Regions from separate parts of the Homo sapiens genome. Here region 2 is linked to region 1. Evidence: fine-mapped expression QTL. Tissue or cell type: whole blood. Region 1 holds a variant in brackets; the other region holds the start of a gene. All regions are shown on one strand. Distances are between the middles of the regions.

Evidence for each region. PIP is the estimated chance that this variant, and not a neighbour inherited with it, causes the effect.
Region 2: SEMA7A starts here. The variant in region 1 is fine-mapped to the expression of SEMA7A in whole blood (TOPMed, PIP 0.96).

The regions. Positions count from the first base shown.
Region 1 is chr15:74,385,203-74,393,303 of GRCh38, reverse strand. It overlaps LINC02255 (long intergenic non-protein coding RNA 2255), which reads right to left. Exons shown (of 4, transcript NR_146881.1): 3 at 2,223-2,785. Among named protein-coding and RNA genes, the nearest start is that of LINC02255, 10 kb to the right of the region's middle. RefSeq lists a cis regulatory region at 416-970 and enhancers at 4,569-5,109, 5,110-5,649, 5,650-6,191, 6,135-6,454, 6,192-6,732 and 3 more. The variant G/C (reference allele first, on the strand shown) is at 3,631.
Region 2 is chr15:74,430,388-74,438,488 of GRCh38, reverse strand. SEMA7A (semaphorin 7A (JohnMiltonHagen blood group)) reads left to right here and starts at 4,531. Exons shown (of 14, transcript NM_003612.5): 1 at 4,531-4,748. The coding sequence starts at 4,571. RefSeq lists silencers at 4,389-4,898, 4,949-5,098, 5,249-5,368.

The DNA.
Region 1 (8,101 bases):
GAATGAGAAATGCCCCTCTCTGTTTTAAGGCCCAGTGAGTAGGGATGGTCACCACAGCACACCCCAGCCTGCCTCAACTGATACCCCAGGGGAGGCCTCTGCAGTGCAGCCAGAGAGAGGAGGGTGCAGGGAGGAGAGCAGAGGATGCAGGCAAGGAGGCCAGGGCACGCAATAATTCCCCGGCTTTTCCTGAGAGCGACACAGGAGCCATTGGGAAGCGTCAACTGGAGAGGTGCGATCCAGTGACATATCTGAACAGGACGGCTCTGGCCACTGTGCTGGGAACACCTGGGGGCAGGAGTGAAAAGGTGGGAGCAGGGAGACCAATTAGGAAGCTCCTGCAATGATCCAGATGAGAAATGATGGGGGCCTGGCCCAGGGTGGGGGCGGCAGTCTGACTCTGGGTCTCCTTTGAGATTAGAGCAGTAGGGTTTGCCAGTGGATGGGAGAGGGAGAGGGGTCTGGGATGCCTCGAAGGCTTTTGGTCTGAGCATCAGGAAGGAGAAAGCTGCCAGCCGGGGGTGGGGAGAATGCGGTGGTGGGGGAAGCGGGTTGGGGTGCTGTGGGGAGCGGGAGCTGGAACGGCTGAGATGCTTGTTATACATCCAAGTGGAGTGTCATGTGGGCGGCTGAGGAGAGGCCTGGCTGGGGGAGGGAGGACAGTCAGGCGTCTGTTTGGGTGTGGACAGTACAGACAGCATCTAACGGCTTGAGACTGGATGAAATCAGGAGGGGTGAAAGCTGGTGCCCCTTTCAGCATCTGGGCTGAGGACAAGGGAGAGAGAAGGGAGGGCATCTCAAGGGACATCCTGGAGGTGGTCTGGACCTCAATAGCCAGAGGGTGGGGGGCTTGAGGATGCAGGAGGAGGGGCAGGCTAGGGGTGGGAGAGGTCTGTCTCCCAGGGTGGAGGCAAGGGAGGGGAGAAAGGCCAAGGACAGACCCCTGGGTGGGGCTTCTTTGAGGGTGGCCCCAGGAGGAGGAAGTGGAACCTTGAAGGGGACAGTGATGGAGTGGGCAGGGAGGTGACAGGAAATCTGGGTGGGCGTTTCAGGAGCCAGGAGTATGGGCACATGTTTTAAGAAGAGAAAGAAAAAAGGGTCTGTGCTTTGGAATGGTGTTGAGGAGTGGAGGCAGGGGTGGCAGTGAAGTGCCCCAGACATAACAGCAGAGAGGTGATCAGTGGCCTCGGTGGGATGTTGGGGCAGGGGTTAGATCCCAGGAATTAAGGGGATGGGGAGGAGGGGGTTAATGGAGGCAGTGGGTGGAGACCGTGCTTTCCAGAGCCGAGGGCAGAGGCTGGAGGTGTGGGGGTGTGGGGCTATTGAGAGAGGGGTCCTGTGGGATGGGAAAGACTCAAGCAGCTGGTTTGATGCCCAGAGGCAGCAGTAGGCGGTGGGGGAAGGCTGAGAAGCCAGGGAGGCCAGGCAGAATGTCGGCAGGTGCCCCACAGCCTCAGTGGCTCCTGAGTCCTGAGGAAGGAGGGGAGACAGGCTAAGGTGGTGATGGGAGGGGGAACACAGGCAGAGGCAAGGAGGGGCAGAGGCAGGAGTGGAGGGAGCGTCAGCCGCTTTGATAGATAACTGATGAGACCATGTGGTGAGAAACCCATAGAACACAGGGGAAGGCCTCCAGGTAGGGCAGGCCTGCAGGCACAGAGGTGGAAGCAGGAGTGTACGGGGGCAGGTGGGTGGCCTTGGCAAAGTCATGGAGGCAGGGAAGCCTGTGGGACTTTGGGGAGCAGGATGAGAGGGGCCCAGAAGAGAGAGGCTGGGGCCTGACCATGGAGACCAGCCTGCCAGGCATGGGCATCTGTGAGTTGCTCAGCAGGCTTTGGGTGCTGCTGGAATCTTGGCCAAGCTCTGCCTGATGGAAGATGCCCACTGTCCCTGCGTCTACCTCCTGCTTGGGCTTGGGAGGGCCTCCAGGCGTTCACATCCTCTCCAGGCCTGGCCTCGAGGTCCCAAGAGGGGATAGGTGTCCAGAGGCAGGGTTGGGCTGGATGAAAATTCAGGTGAGAGGACATGACTTTGGTAGCTTGCGCCTCCTGGGAACACCTGGAAGTCACCTACTGAATCATCAGAGCCACTTGCCTGGGATGGAACTAAGGTTTCCTAAGAATCCACCCACTTCCTCTTTTCTAAAAGTCCCTTTCATCACTTCAGGGAAAAGGAACTCGTCTTCATTGACATCCCTGCATGCACGAGAGCAGGTCATGATTTACCTGGTGTGGTGCTCATGATGGCTTCATGGGGAGGGCGCTGTTGTTCTTCCCATCTGACAGGTGGGGAAGCTGAGGCCGTACAGGTACTGTGACCTACCCAAAGTCACATTGTGGAGTGAGTCTGTGGAGGTCACAGACACGGTATGGAGCATGGGGGCCCTGGCCATGGTGTTATCCGTCTCCTGCAGGTGGCTGCCAAGAAGCCTCTGTGACCTGGTAAATTCCTGATCTCTTCATCTATCTTGGGTACCGGTTTGGTTTCCTTGAATGCTTGAGGTTCCTTTCACTCTCACGGACATATGACAGAGTTCTTCCATCTCCCGTCACAGGCACTTCATGCAGGGCCCCACGCTACCATCGTGGGCTTCCTCATTCTTGCTTTGAAGGTCATGACCTCCTGGAGGCCCAGGAAGGGACATGAACCCTAATCCCCCTGGCTGGACCATTGGCTCCCTGAAGGCAGGAACCAAGTCCCAAAGCTTCATTCCCCATTTCTTTTCAGAGCCGACTCAGTCCTGGTGCCTAGGGGTGGATGGTGGGGGTCATCCCAGGAGGCACAGGTCCTGTAAGAAAGGAAGTAGCACCTACTGAGCTTTTGTTTGTTTGTTTGTTTTTGTTTTTGAGGTGGAGTCTCACTCTGTCACCCAGACTGGAGTGCAGCAGCGCGATCTTGCCTCACTGCAAACTCCACCTCCCGGGTTTAAGCTGTTCTCCTGCCTCAGCCTCCTGAGTAGCTGGGATTACAGGCGCACGCCACCACATCCAGCTAATTTTTTGTGTTTTTAGTAGAGACGGGGGTTTCGCCATGTTGGCCAGGCTGGTCTTGGACTCCTGACCTCAAGCAATCTGCCCACCTTGGCCTCCTAAAGTGCTGGGATTACAGGCGTGAGCCACCTTGCCTGGCGTTTGGATGAGCCAGGCTCTAGCACCATCTCCCCCACTCCTTTACAGGAACCCTCTGAGGACGATGTTACTGTCAGCACCCCCATTTTACAGGTGAGGGAATGAAGGTGACATAGCTGGCTTCCAGCCCTCATCTCTGAGCCCAGAGCCTGTACGCTGTACACTCGAGCAGGCAGAGACTGCACAAGCAGAGAGCAGGCCTCTGTGGGTCACGACAGGGGAGCCAGGTCAGCCCCGTCACGCATGGGCCCCCAGCACTGGCTGGCAGCCCCCCTCGGGGGCCAATCCCGAGTCCCCACTGGGAGGTCCAGCAGTGAGTGCTCCATGGTGCCCTGGTGACGGGGGGGGCCTGTGAGGCAGGCCGTGAGCCAAATGTCCCCACACAGCCTATCTCAGGCCACTCACAGAAAAGGAAAGAAAATATCTTGAGATCTTTTCTGGCCTTATCAGCCCCACACAGAGGCCCCGCTGTGGTGTGGTAACAGGGTCCGTGAGTGTGTGCTCA[G/C]ATAAGCGCCAGGCGTTTCTGAGAACCTGCAAGGCACCGTCCTGAGTTCCCCCTCTCTAGAACATTCTTCTTCCACATGCTGCACAACTGGTTCCCTTAGGTCCTCAGGGCATATTCTTAGAGAGGCCCTCCTTGACCAGCCTTCTCAACCCCTTGCCCTCCCCTCCTGCCTCCAGCTTCGTCTCCCTCCTGGACACTCCCCGTCTCTGGGAGCCTCCTGCGGGTTCCTGGCTGGTGTCTGTTTTCCCAGCATGAGGGAAGCTCCTGGAGGGCAAGAGGCACATCTGTCTGGGCCTCGGGATCCTGGTGCTGCTCAGTAATGTCCATTGCCAGAGTGAGGCAGGGAAGGAGGTCTCAGCCCTAAGGTGTTCTTGGCATAGGGCCTGGCCTATGCGTGTATTTTATCTAATCCCTCTAACGACTTTACAAGGCAAAATTTATTATCTTCATTTCATAAATGAAGGAGCTCAGAATATAAAGCAGCTTGTGGGAGATCACAGAGAGTGTTAGTGGAAATTTGAACCAGGGGGGTCTGTGAGGCTCCAAAGAGGTGGGTGATGCCCCCTGAGCTGAAGGGGTGGGGCAGGAGACCCGTCCTAGCCTGGGCTCAGCTGCAGCCTCGCTCTGGGACTGTGGGCCGCAGGCTTCTCTTTGTATACTGGGGCTGGGGTCGCTCCCTGAGCTAAGATCCTGGCTCCAATGGAAGAAAGGTGATTTGCAGTGAGGGGGGTGAGGGGGCTTGGAGCCTCGGAGGAAGGGGTTGAAGCTGGGTAGGGAACAAGGGGCAGGATCCTCCTGAGGTGCCAGCATGGGAAACCGTGGGGGAAGGGCTTGGCCACAGGAATGAACTCAAAAAAGGGATCGAAGCACCCTGAGCTCCGAGCTGGATGCACAGGTGGGTGAGCCTTGGAAGCAGGAGGGACCTCCAGGGGGAGGGCACAGCAGCCGCATCCAGGCTGGGTGTCCCTGGGCCACAAGCTCAGCCTCTCTGTGGCTTTCCCAGCTTCAAGCAGAAGCTCAACCCTGGGAGAAGCGCTCTCTCGGGTTCCCCTGCTCCTAGCCCCAAGGACCCAGCCTGCTAGGTCCCACCAGCCCTGAAGCTAGGTCCACAGGTGCATATGGGCTCCCTCGGCTGCTGGCTTCCTGCCCAGCCCTCCTTCGGCAGCGCTCACTGGCTGGAGAGCAGGGGTCTCCTGAGGGGTGGGGCAGGGGCCAGGGCTTGCCCTCTGATCCTACCCCTAACATTGCCTGGGCCCAGGGCAGGAGTAAAAATGGAGGCCCACATACTATATGTCTGGATATTTCAAAGTTATAAATCAAGCCAACAACCTCTAAATAGGATATGCTCTATCCTCCTACATTAGCAAATACACCTTCATAACACCCTGAGGACCAGGTTTGTACTTAGAATTCTTGGGCTCCTGGAATGCAGGACTGGAATGTGGCAGGCAGAGGCTGAGCCAACCCCAGCTCCCATCCCGGGCTCCCCCTTGGGCAGTGTGTGACCTTCCCAGACCCATCCATATACGTAGCAGTGGCTGCCCCTTGGCCACTCCCGAGGCCTTGGGGTGTGCACACCCGCTGCAGGTCGGTTCTCAGGAAGGCAGGCCCAGCGGAAAGGCCCACGTGGGCTGTGGAGTTAGATTTGGGGCCCTGTGGGCAGGGAATTCTGGGGTTCTGCATTTGGAGGGGGGATGTGGGGCTCGGGTGGACACATTTCCTTGGCTCATGGACTTTATTTCCCTGTTGGAGGGGCAAGGCCAGTGGAAGGCTGGAGTGGAATCCTCTAGAATGCAGGTGCCAGGGCAGGGCTCCTTCTTGCTTGCATCTAAGGGTAATGCTGTCCCCGGGCACTCCCAGAACCTGGCTATGGATAAAATGTCCCTACCCTGCTTACATCTCAGCATCTGAGGTACCCTGGAGCCACACTGGACTTGCCTACCTTGCCCCACCCACAGTCTATGGTGCTGGCATTCCCTCACCCTGGACGCTGGCACTCTTCTCTGGCACCATCCCCTCCCTTCCTGCCCAGCATGCCCACTTTCCTCATGTGGCAGGGGAGGGGGCGCCTCCTGTTCCCCACCTCTCTGGGACCTTGGTCTCCGCCGGTCCATGTGCTCTCTCTGCCTGGTCTGGCTCGGTGGACCTCTCGGTGCCGAGCCCTCCCGCCCTGACCGGGGGCCCTGCGGGCAGTGGGCAGCCCTCCTGGAAAGTGGGGCACCAACTCCACTTCAGCCAATGTTTCTCGCTCTCTCAGCTGAAAAGCCACCGCTTCCCCGAGGCTCCCAGCCCTCGCCCCACCGGTACTAGCAGCTCCTTCCCTGATGCTGTGTGACAGGCCCAACGTCAGGGCTCCCACACCTGGCCAGCTGCCCTGCTACTGGGTGCCTCCCCCACAACACCTGCCACAAGCCAATCAGGGCACTGCAGCCCCTGCTGTATGGGTGCTGTCTGCCTTTGGGCCCAGGATGGGCCCTTCTGGGCTCCCCTGTTCCTGTCCAGTCTCGCCTCCCACCCTGAGGGGGATCATGGCAAAAAAAGTGGGGGTGGTGAGCGGACCCTGCTGTCAGGGTTGAGAGGTGATTCAGAGGCCTTTTCTGTCACGAGTGAAGGGGGTTGGGCCCTGGGGGGAGGTGATGGGGATTTTTGGACTGAGCTGTGCCCCGAGGGCCTTGATCAGCTTTGGCCCCCGAGTATCTGATCAGGAACATGCTGGCTGGAACACTCAGGGAGAGGCCGTCCTGTGCCTCCTCAGCCTACAGTCCACGGTGCTGGCCGCCACCTCAGGAACGACTCCTGCAGACGTGGCCCCTTCCCATGTTTCTTTGTTCACGGCTGGCCTGGTTCTTGCTGTGTCAGCATCGGCACCATCCCCTGCCAGGCATGGCCGCAGTCCCACAACCAGCATGGCTCCCTAGGGAGGACAATGCCGGGTGGGAGGGTCCCGGCTGTGGGGACCAGGTCTGGGCCTAGGCAAGGAGAGTGCCCATCTCATCCTGCCAGATAATGGATAGAGGGAGAGGCACCCACTTGCCCCCTGTGCAGCTGTGGGTTTCCCTGGACAGGCTTGTGCCTGCCACCCTGGGGAGGCCCCTCCTTCTCCTCTCTCCTCATCAGGATGGCCTGGCCTGTCTCCCTCCTGCTACAACGCCCCTCCCTGCTGGCCCAGCAGGGTCCAGGAGCCTGAGCTACTGGGACATACCCAGCTTACAATGGACAATGAGCCCAGATCTTCCTCTGCAAGCCAGCCGGTGCCGGGAGGCGAGACAGGCCAGGTCGGTTACCTGAGGGGGATCTCTGAGCGCCTCCTCTGCTCTGCCCTTTGCACCTGCTGAGCCCATCTCAATGCCTTCCTCCCTCCTTGTTGCCCTTGAGCCCCCCACAGCACCCTTCTCCGGGAAGCCTTCCTGACTGCAGAATTCCCCAGCATGAGTCTGAGTGAAGGACCCATCCCTACAGGTCCCTGTCCTGGGAGTCAAGGCTCCTGGGAGCTGGCCCAGATATCCTTTTAGCCATAGCCCAACCCCCTCCTTGGCTCATGCTAGGCCCTTGGGCTCAGTAGAGACTTTCACAAGAGGTGGGGGCTTGTGGTGGCCACAGCATGCTGGCCTATGGCTTGTGGCTCAGTTGCCCATCTGAGAAATAGGGGCGCTGTCGCTTCCTCTGCCAGCAATGGTCTCCATCCCTCCCCGCCTCTCCGGTTTCCTTTATGGAGCAGCTCAGCTGTTTCCCAGTTGGGAAGCGCCCTGCTCCTCTGGGAAGGGCTCAGGAAGCAATTGAGGATCTGACCTCATGTTTCCGTCCATCCAGCCCTGTCTGGTGCTGCCAGATGTCTGAGGAGCTTCTGTGGGGGAGGGGGAAGGGGTAGGAGATGGGGCTGCAGGACTAGGGGCTGGATCTAACTCCAGCCCCTCTTGGGATGAGGCTGTTGTCCCTTTTGATGGGGAACTGAGGTCCCAAGTTGAGGGGAGCTCAGGCTGCAAAGCTGGCTGCCCGTGCCTTCCTGCTCAGAGCTACCCCTGGCATGTGCTAAGGAATTTGCAGGGGAAAAAATACAACTGGATGCCAGGCCTTGAGGCCACCTGAGGCCCACAGGCTGTGAGAATGCAGGTTTGGGCTGGAGCTAGCACAGAAGCAAGGTCTGCCAGGGGCCAGGAAAGGCAGGAGGCTGACCTCAGCTTGGGGGATGGGGTGGGAGGGTCAAGAGGACAACAGGCGAGGGAGGCAGCGGCTGGTCTGAGTGCCCCGAGGAGCCTGCCCAGGTGGGAGGCTGCCAGCCAGGCCCTGGGAAGGGGACTTCTGGGGCACTGCACCCTCTCTGGGAGTACCACTGAGCAGGGCGGGCAGGAAGGCTGGGCTTATTGCGTTTCAGGACCAGTCACTTCCTCTCTCTGGACCACACCTTTCAGATGAGCTCACCACCTACTTCAGTGCCCAGCCCACCCTGATGTTGCAGGAGCAAATAAGGTGA
Region 2 (8,101 bases), 45 kb before region 1:
GGTCTAGGAGGAAGAGGCAGGCACTTGAGGGGAATGTCCTGGCTGAGGTTTGGAGGCAGGCAGAGCACTGAGGGGAGGGTGAGGCATGGCCTGGGCAGCCTGAGAAGTGTCTTCTTGGCACTCCTTGCCTGACATGGTCTGCCAAGAGTTGGGCCAGGTATAGTGACTGTCGTGCCTGTGCCTGTGAGATAGTCACAGTGGGCACATGGTATGTTGGGGGTCCCAGATATGGGCCCCAGACCTGTTTTTATTTGCCCATATCCATCCTCCTTAACTTTTGAATTATTTGCCAATATTTTAAAAGAGAGAGTTTCAACAAAGAGTCAATTTTCTTTTCTTTTTTTTGATGGAGTCTCGCCCTGTCACCCAGGCTGGAGTGCAATGGCGCAATCTCAGCTCACTGCAACCTCCACCTCCCAGGTTCAAGTGATTCTCCTGCCTCAGCCTCCCAAGTAGCTGGGATTACAGTTGCGTGCCACCATGCCCGGCTAATGTTTACATTTTTAGTAGAAATGGGGTTTCACCATTTTGGCCAGGCTGGTCTCGAACTCCTGACCTTGTCAGATAAAAATGCATGTAGAATGATTAGGACAGAAATCATTGACCTTGTGATCCACCCACCTCGGTCTCCCAAAGTTCTGGGATTACAGCCGTGAGCCACCACCCCTGGCCTCTTTTTTCTTTTCTTTTCTTTTTTTTTTTTTTGAGACAGAGTTTCACTCTTGTGTCCCATGCTGGAGTGCAGTGGTGCGATCTTGGTTCACTGCAACCTCCGCCTCCTGGGTTTAAGTGATTTTCCTGCCTCAGCCTCCCAAGTAGCTGGAATTACAGGCGCTCGCTACCATGCCCGGCTAATTTTTGTATTTTTTAGTAGAGATGGGGTTTCACCATATTGTGCAGGCTGATCTTGAACTCCTGACCTCAGGTGATCCACCTGCCTTGGCCTCCCAAAGTGCTGGGATTACAGGCATGAGCCACCGTGCCCAGCCCTCAATTTTCAGCTTCTCTTGAAAATCATACTACCTTTCACTACTGGGTTTACTTCTTCATGGTTCCATGGGCTGGAGCTGAGTCGAAATTGCCTTATAGACAGCACAGGGTTCTGCAGACCCCAGCCCACCCACTCCCCTCGTTCTCATCAGTTCCAAGTCTCTGCCCCCTGCAATAGGTAGTAATGGTGGTAGGCAATAGGAATTGTTGCTGCTGTTAGTAGCCAGGAGGTCTGAATGGCCACCAAGCTCTGAGGCCTCAAAGAAGGGGTGGGATCTAGCATGGAGGGGGCTGTTGGGGATTGAATGCCCTCTGAGAGCTACTTCTAATCCTAAGAATTGGGATTCTTGGATCATCGTATCTGTGAAAGGAAGTGAACTGTGTGTGGGTGACCTCACGTCTGCATATGTTATCTCCTCACGGAATCCTTCTATCTCCCACAGGCCTCTTGTTTGAGGTGGGTCACTCCTGTGAAGGCCATGTGTAGCCATGGAATCAGGGCTGAGGAGGAGGTCAGATAACTCTGGAGAATGGAAGGATGAGTTAAGTTGGACCCTGAAAGGTGAGAGGCTTTAGTTGGAATGTTGGGGGGATTGCCCGGGGCTTCTGCCACTGCTTCAAGACCATGAATCTCAGGTCTGTGTGTATCCATTTCTTTCATTCCAAAAGGAGCCTTCTTGGATTGGGCTGTGCCTCAGCTGTCCATGGGGCTCAGGAAGTGATCCTTCTCAAGGTATTTTTCTTATCGATAGAAGCCCTGCATCATTTCTTCCTCCCTCCCCTGAATGTGGAATCATGGAGAAGGGAGGGACAAGAATGTGCCTCCCCATCAGACGTGTCAGCATCCACATGTGTTGCTTCCTCTGCTGGTCCACTTCCCATCACTGGCTGTGAGTGGGAATTGTGCCCCTGTTCTTGGTCCAGGCTCAAGAGCCAGCCTTGGCCTCCAATGAGGCAGGCAGGCCTCTGACACCACCTATACCATTCTGACTTGATTTTCCTATGCTGCCTGAGGCAGGAAAGTCCATGCCTAAACTCTGGTCATAGTGCCTGCCCCACAGTCTAGCTGCCTTTCCCTTTATAAAGTTATTGCCTCAAGTCATGGGCTTAGTTCTCTCCTCCCCTGGCTGCCTGCAGCCAACCGAGAGAGTGGGCTGCCATCTCGCCTGGCCCTTTGTCCCCAGGTTGGCTGGCTTGTGGGGAGGATGGTCTTAAGTACTACTTCCTTCCCCCCTACCCCCCAGTCTGGAAAAAAAATTATCTGGCATCTACCCCAGTTTCCATCTGCTACTCTGTTGATTGGGAGATTGAGCCCATTCCCTGGTCTGCCCTCCTACTCAGCACCTGGTGACCTGGGCCCTATCTAGGTCCTTCTGGGGATGGTTTGGACCCAGACTTCAGCCACAGACAGGAGGCAGCAGTGCCAGGGTACATCACACAGAGAGAAGTCAAGGGTGTGGGTCCTTGAGAAACCACCTGAGTTTCAATCCGTCCTGCCTCTAGTTGTGCGATCCTGGCACTTCACATCCCTTGTCTGTGCCTTGATTTCTTCATTTGTAAAGGGAGGTGACTAATAGCTCCTATCTCATAGGAGTGCGAAGATTGAATGAGTTGGGAGAGGCTATGAGATGGCACAGCACATAGGAACCACAGTGTTAGCAATTGTTATTGCAGTCAGAAAACCCATCTTCGTTCTACCATTTACCGGTTGACCTCGGGCAGGTCCGTCCTTGTCCCTCCCTGTACCTCAGTTTTCTTCTCTGCAGTGGAGTTACGCTCCCTCCCTCAGTGAGAGGAAGAGAGTGGAGGACTGGCAGAGATGAGGTAGGTGAATGTGGGTTATGTGTTGTGAGTTGCCATGCACATGGGCAGTGTTATCATTGATTTTGAATCCATTTGAATTCTTAGTTCCAAAAGGCAGAGACAGGTGATTTCTTAGTTTGCCCTAGCTTTGCATAGAGAGGACAGACACTGAGGGCAATACCTGTCTAGCAGGTGAAACCGAATGTCCATCTTAGAGGCTGGCCTGGGCCAGGCTCCACTGCTGGCTTCAGGGCCACAGGCTTAGGTGCAGGCCTGAGGAGGAGCTCTTAGACTGTCCACAGCCTCCCTCTCTGGGGCAGTGTGCCCCTGTGTATCAGGAGGCTGTTGGCTTCACCCAGTGGGCCAGGAACCTCACTCTGCACTGTCTCTGGAGGTACCTTGAGTTTACCTTCCTGGCCTGCTGGGGTGCCTCAGGACTCTGAGGGAAGAAGGAGGGGACAACTGGAAGCAAAATGTAGAATGGTAAAGCCAAACTTCTTGGTAGCAAAACTTTCCTGGTTCCAGGAGGTAAAAACAACAACCAAATGGTCCTGGCCCCATGGAGCAGGGCAGAGGGCAGAGGGCAGCCAGCCCACCGCCTTTGCTGGTGTCTGCAGTGCGTGAATCGTGTCTAGGTCTGTGAGTTCTGAAGGTTGGATGTTCACCTCTACTCCTTCCTCGGCCTGTCTCCTCTCAGTGCAGCTAGACATCCAGTAAACACTAGATAAGTACTTACTGAGCTGGGTGGATTTTCCATTCATGGTTCCCTGGGGCACAAGTGGAAGTGGTAGGTCTGGGCCCTGTCTGGTCTAGAGAGAGGAGACCCTTTTACAAAGGGCAGGCACGTAGTTCTGAGAGGAGGAGCTGATGGCAGAGCTGGCTGGACTGCTCAGGTAACTGCAGAGGGTCTGGGCCTGGACCCCCCAAGGGAGTCCCCACTGAATGGTCAGGTTGCCTGAGATAGCTGAGCCCTAGGCACTTTGCGGGCAGAGATCCCCTTAAGCTGCTTTGACCCTCCCTCCCCCACAGTGAGTGGGGCACGGGGGATGCTCCCCTCTCTACTTGGGGAAGGGGCCTTCCTAATTATATCCCCCTCCACTCACATGGAAATGAGTTTGGATTTTCTGAGCGTACACCAGCTGGCTTGGGGGGAGGCAGCCCAGAAGGCTGCTGGCTGGGAAAGGGAGGAGAAAGGAGAGGGAGGGGAAGGAGCCAGGCCAAGATGAAAAATTTCCAGTGTTCTCCCAGGCAAAGCAACAGCGGGTCCCTGAGTGCTCCCCACATATCATCGTTGTGCCTGCTGGTAGGCTCAGCAGGGAGCCGTGTCCACTTAGGCGAACGCATCCTCCGAGGACCATAGTCCTCAGGGTGCGAACCACTTAGCTGGCCATAGCAAGGTTGTTGGGTGTTGGACTCCTCTGCGCCCTTGGAGAGAGGTCCTCCACGACTTCTACGCCAATCTTTTTACGGGGTGCGGGGAGTGGAACTGAGGCCCAGAGAGGGGATAGGGCCTGCCGCCCCTGGCAGAAGACCACAAGTCTGGCTTGTCCGCAGCTGGGCTTTCCCCGTAGAGTTGCCCGGGAGAGGGTGGCGAAGGTTCCCCCAGCAGTTCCGCTCTCGCTCAGGAAAGCCAGTGAGGCGAGAAAAGGCTGCGAGGGGCGGGGGGAGGGGCGGGGTGGGGTCAGCGCTGGCTCCGCCTCCTGGCGCTTGGGTCTGCCTGCGGCCGGGCGCTGGCTCAGTCTCGGCTGATTGCCGCTGTCGCTCCCGGGGCCACGGGATGACGCCTCCTCCGCCCGGACGTGCCGCCCCCAGCGCACCGCGCGCCCGCGTCCCTGGCCCGCCGGCTCGGTTGGGGCTTCCGCTGCGGCTGCGGCTGCTGCTGCTGCTCTGGGCGGCCGCCGCCTCCGCCCAGGGCCACCTAAGGAGCGGACCCCGCATCTTCGCCGTCTGGAAAGGTAGGCGGCGCCGCGCGGCCGGTCAGGCGCGGGATCAGACGCTGCGCGGGGCGGGTGCGGAGTGTGCTGCACCCGGAGGGAGTGCGTGCGCGCAGCTCTGCGGGTCCCGGGCTGTCCCCGCGCTGTCCCCGCGTGGAGCGTGTGGGTTTGGGTGAGTGTGTGTGAGTGTACACGCTGGCACACCAGAGCCGGCTGTAACGCTGCGGCGAGCGAGCGGCGGGGGCCGGAGCCCCGGCTAAGTCGCACCAAGTCCCTGGCAGCCAGGAGCCGCAACGCCCGGGCGCCAGGGGAGGGGGCGGGCCCCTCTCTCGGCCCCGAGCCACTCTGGGTCCTCTGGCTCGGGGGCTTCGGCGGAGGACCTTTCCCCGCCTGGGACCCCAACCCGGGTACCCTCCTTTTGAGCTGCGGGCTCTGCTGGCGCGCGGGGCGCAGGCTGGGCCGGCAAGGGGGGCGCGGACCCCTTGCCGCCGCCGCCGCGCTTCGGCAGCGGGAACAAAGACCCCGCCGCCTGCCCCCGCCCCCGCCCCGGCCCGGAGCTCGGGCCAGGCAAGGGGGTGGGCATCCTGCAGCGAGCGGCGGGACATGGTGCGGTGCGGCGGCTTGGGGTACCAGGGCGCTGCCTCAGCAATGCCGGGACCGGCCGCTCCCCCCTTGCCCGCACGTGGCAGTTGTCACCAGAAATCGGCTCCAGCGTTGGGGGGCAGTGCCCGTTGGGTGGGGCACGGCCGTTGGGACCCCCAGGCGGTGGATCTAGGGCGGGGGTGCAGCCTTTAGGCCAGGGTAGATAATAAGAACCTGGGGGACTGGAGTCTCCCCCAGGGCACCTCAGTTTAGACCCTGTACTATGGGACAGAAAGCCGGTTAGGCGGGGGTTTGAGGCTTTCTGCCGCGAGGAACTGATCTCCCCTCCCCTGCATTGCACACAAATGCCTCCCCGCCCCCAGTCCGATTCGGCTCTGTCCCCAAATTTGGCGTGTCTGCGGCCCCCCTGTCGTGATGGTGGGGGACTCGCAGTGGGGGCTGGGGGAACTGGTCGGGTCTGGCCCCACCGGGAGCCTTTTGATGCCTTTGGCAGTTTGCAGGGATTGCGGGAGTCTGAGCATTATCTGGGGCAGGTATTATTAGCAGAGGGGAAAAAAAACCATACACAAAACGAGTGGCCCGAACTGCCGCAGTAGCTGAGGGAATGTGACTTGCCCAAGGTCACTGAGCAGTGTGGGAGCCCAGGTGCAGGCAGGGGCTCTGATCTGGCACAGGACCAGTCCAGGTTCTGGGTTAGGGAGGGGAGAAGGATTTAGGTGGTTCAGGGACCATGAATGAGGTGCTCTGGGGACCAGCTCGGCTACCCAGCCTGAGGTGCTCCTGGAGGAAGCCGAGCAGTGCTGCTAGAGCTCCGGCCGCCTGTACATGGAGGAGGCCTGCACACCCCTCTGCCATCCCAGCTCCAGCCCAAGCTTCCTTTGCCCTCCCAGCAGCTTTGCCTTCCCTCAGTCTCCTTGGCTGTCTTGGACATCATAGCGTGTGGGCACTCTGGAGGGGACAAATGGCCACATCTGAGTGTTCTGGAATCTTTCCCTCCATCAAACCCCTTGCATTTTGACTCTGTTTGCCTGTCCCAAAGTCTTCCCATGACCCCCCACCCCCACCCCACTTAATGCACACCCACTTCTTAGCACTTAATGCATACATCCCATCCTGGGCACTTAGTTCCCACCCTGAGGCTATTTAAAGTTGCTTTCAGTCCTCTTACCCACTTTTCGAAGCTCCCAGCACAGCTCCATGGCCTACCCCCCCGCCCGCAGTTCACTGCTGTAGCCACACTGGCTGTGCCCTCTGCTTAGTAATGCACTGTTGAGCCCCGCTGGCTGGGGTCTGCCAACCGTTCACCAGTCTTGTCCAACGACAGTCTGTGGTCTCCTTCACCAGTGCCAGGTGCCCCACTGGCCAGACAGGCCCTGCCATTCACCTGCCCCCCACCCCCAGGGCCACCAGCTGGTGATGGTGTGCCCGACTGACAGCTGCCTCCTGTCTCCTGTGGGGTGACACATGGCAATCGGACAGGAATGGGCTTGGGTAGGACAAACCCAGGAACAGGGTAAGAGGGGGTCTTTCTGGAAGCCTAGAGCTCTGTCTACCAGTGGTGGGTGGGAGTATGGTGGTATCCAGGAATGACAAAATCAGGGATGGTGGTGGTTCTGGAGCCATTTCTCTATGAGGCATAGATGGGGGTTTTAGTTTTGAGTCAGGACAGCTGTGGGGACTGGAATAGGTATGGAAAGTTCTTTATTTTCTGCTGCTTGGATCCCCAAGTTCTAGAGAAAGATTAAAGCAGGGAACTCTGAGAGGGGCCCAGCCTGCACTGATCAGGGAGATTGCTGCCTCTGCAGCTTGATGAAAGTCTGGCACAGCGTAGCTCAGGCCAGGGAGAGAGATGGGCCATCATGTACCTGCTGGGTGTCCTTGAGCTCCACACTTGTCTTTGACCCTTAGAGCCTGCCAGAGCAAGAAAGGCTGTAGGGATTGTCCCCCAAGGGCTGTCACTGACACATGGGCCAGTCAAGGATGTGCATGTGTGGTCCTGATCTTCCTGTAAGCAGGAACTGTAAGGGAGTAGATTGCAGGTGAGGGCTGGGGCTTAGCAGGAGGTTGGCATGCGTTTGTAAGCTGTGCACCCCTCTTCCATTTTATCAGTGGTTGGAGGAGCTAAAGAAGGCTTGGAACCCCAAGGTCAGAGGTGAACCAGCCTGTCCATGGGGAAACAGAACCCATATCCCCAGTCTCAACCTGCCCGGCTGGTTCTGCCCTCCCTCGCTTTTGTCCAGTGAAACAACGGGATGTTATTGTTGACTTGGTGGCTGCTGGGGAGCCATTCTGGGGCTGCTCCCCAGGGCAGGAGGTTGTTGTTACCTCCTCCAGGGGATGAGGTCACATCTGGGGCTTCCCAAGCATCAGCATTTCCAGTGGAAATCCTTGCCCCCTTGGGGACTTAGATGTGTTCATCACCTTCAAGGTGAACTCCCTCCACAGAGTCTCATGGTGGGGGGGCAATTCCCCGGAGGAGAGGGGGAGTTTCCTAAGCCAAGAGAGATGCTTGGTGAGGTCACCAGGAGCTTCCTACCAAGCTCTGTGACCCCTCTGTCCTGGACAGTGAAGATTCTGAGAGCAGGTCCGGTGGAATGGACGCTGGCACAGGTCCAATGATGACCATGGTATAGGGGAGAGAGCTGGGAGGTCGGGAGCCTGGTTCAGGCTGTGACCTAATTTGCTCTGTGACTGGGCAAGTCTTTGCCTTTTACTGAACCCCAGTTTCCCCAAATGCCCAAAGAGGGTAGGGGAGGGGGCTCATCCTTTTC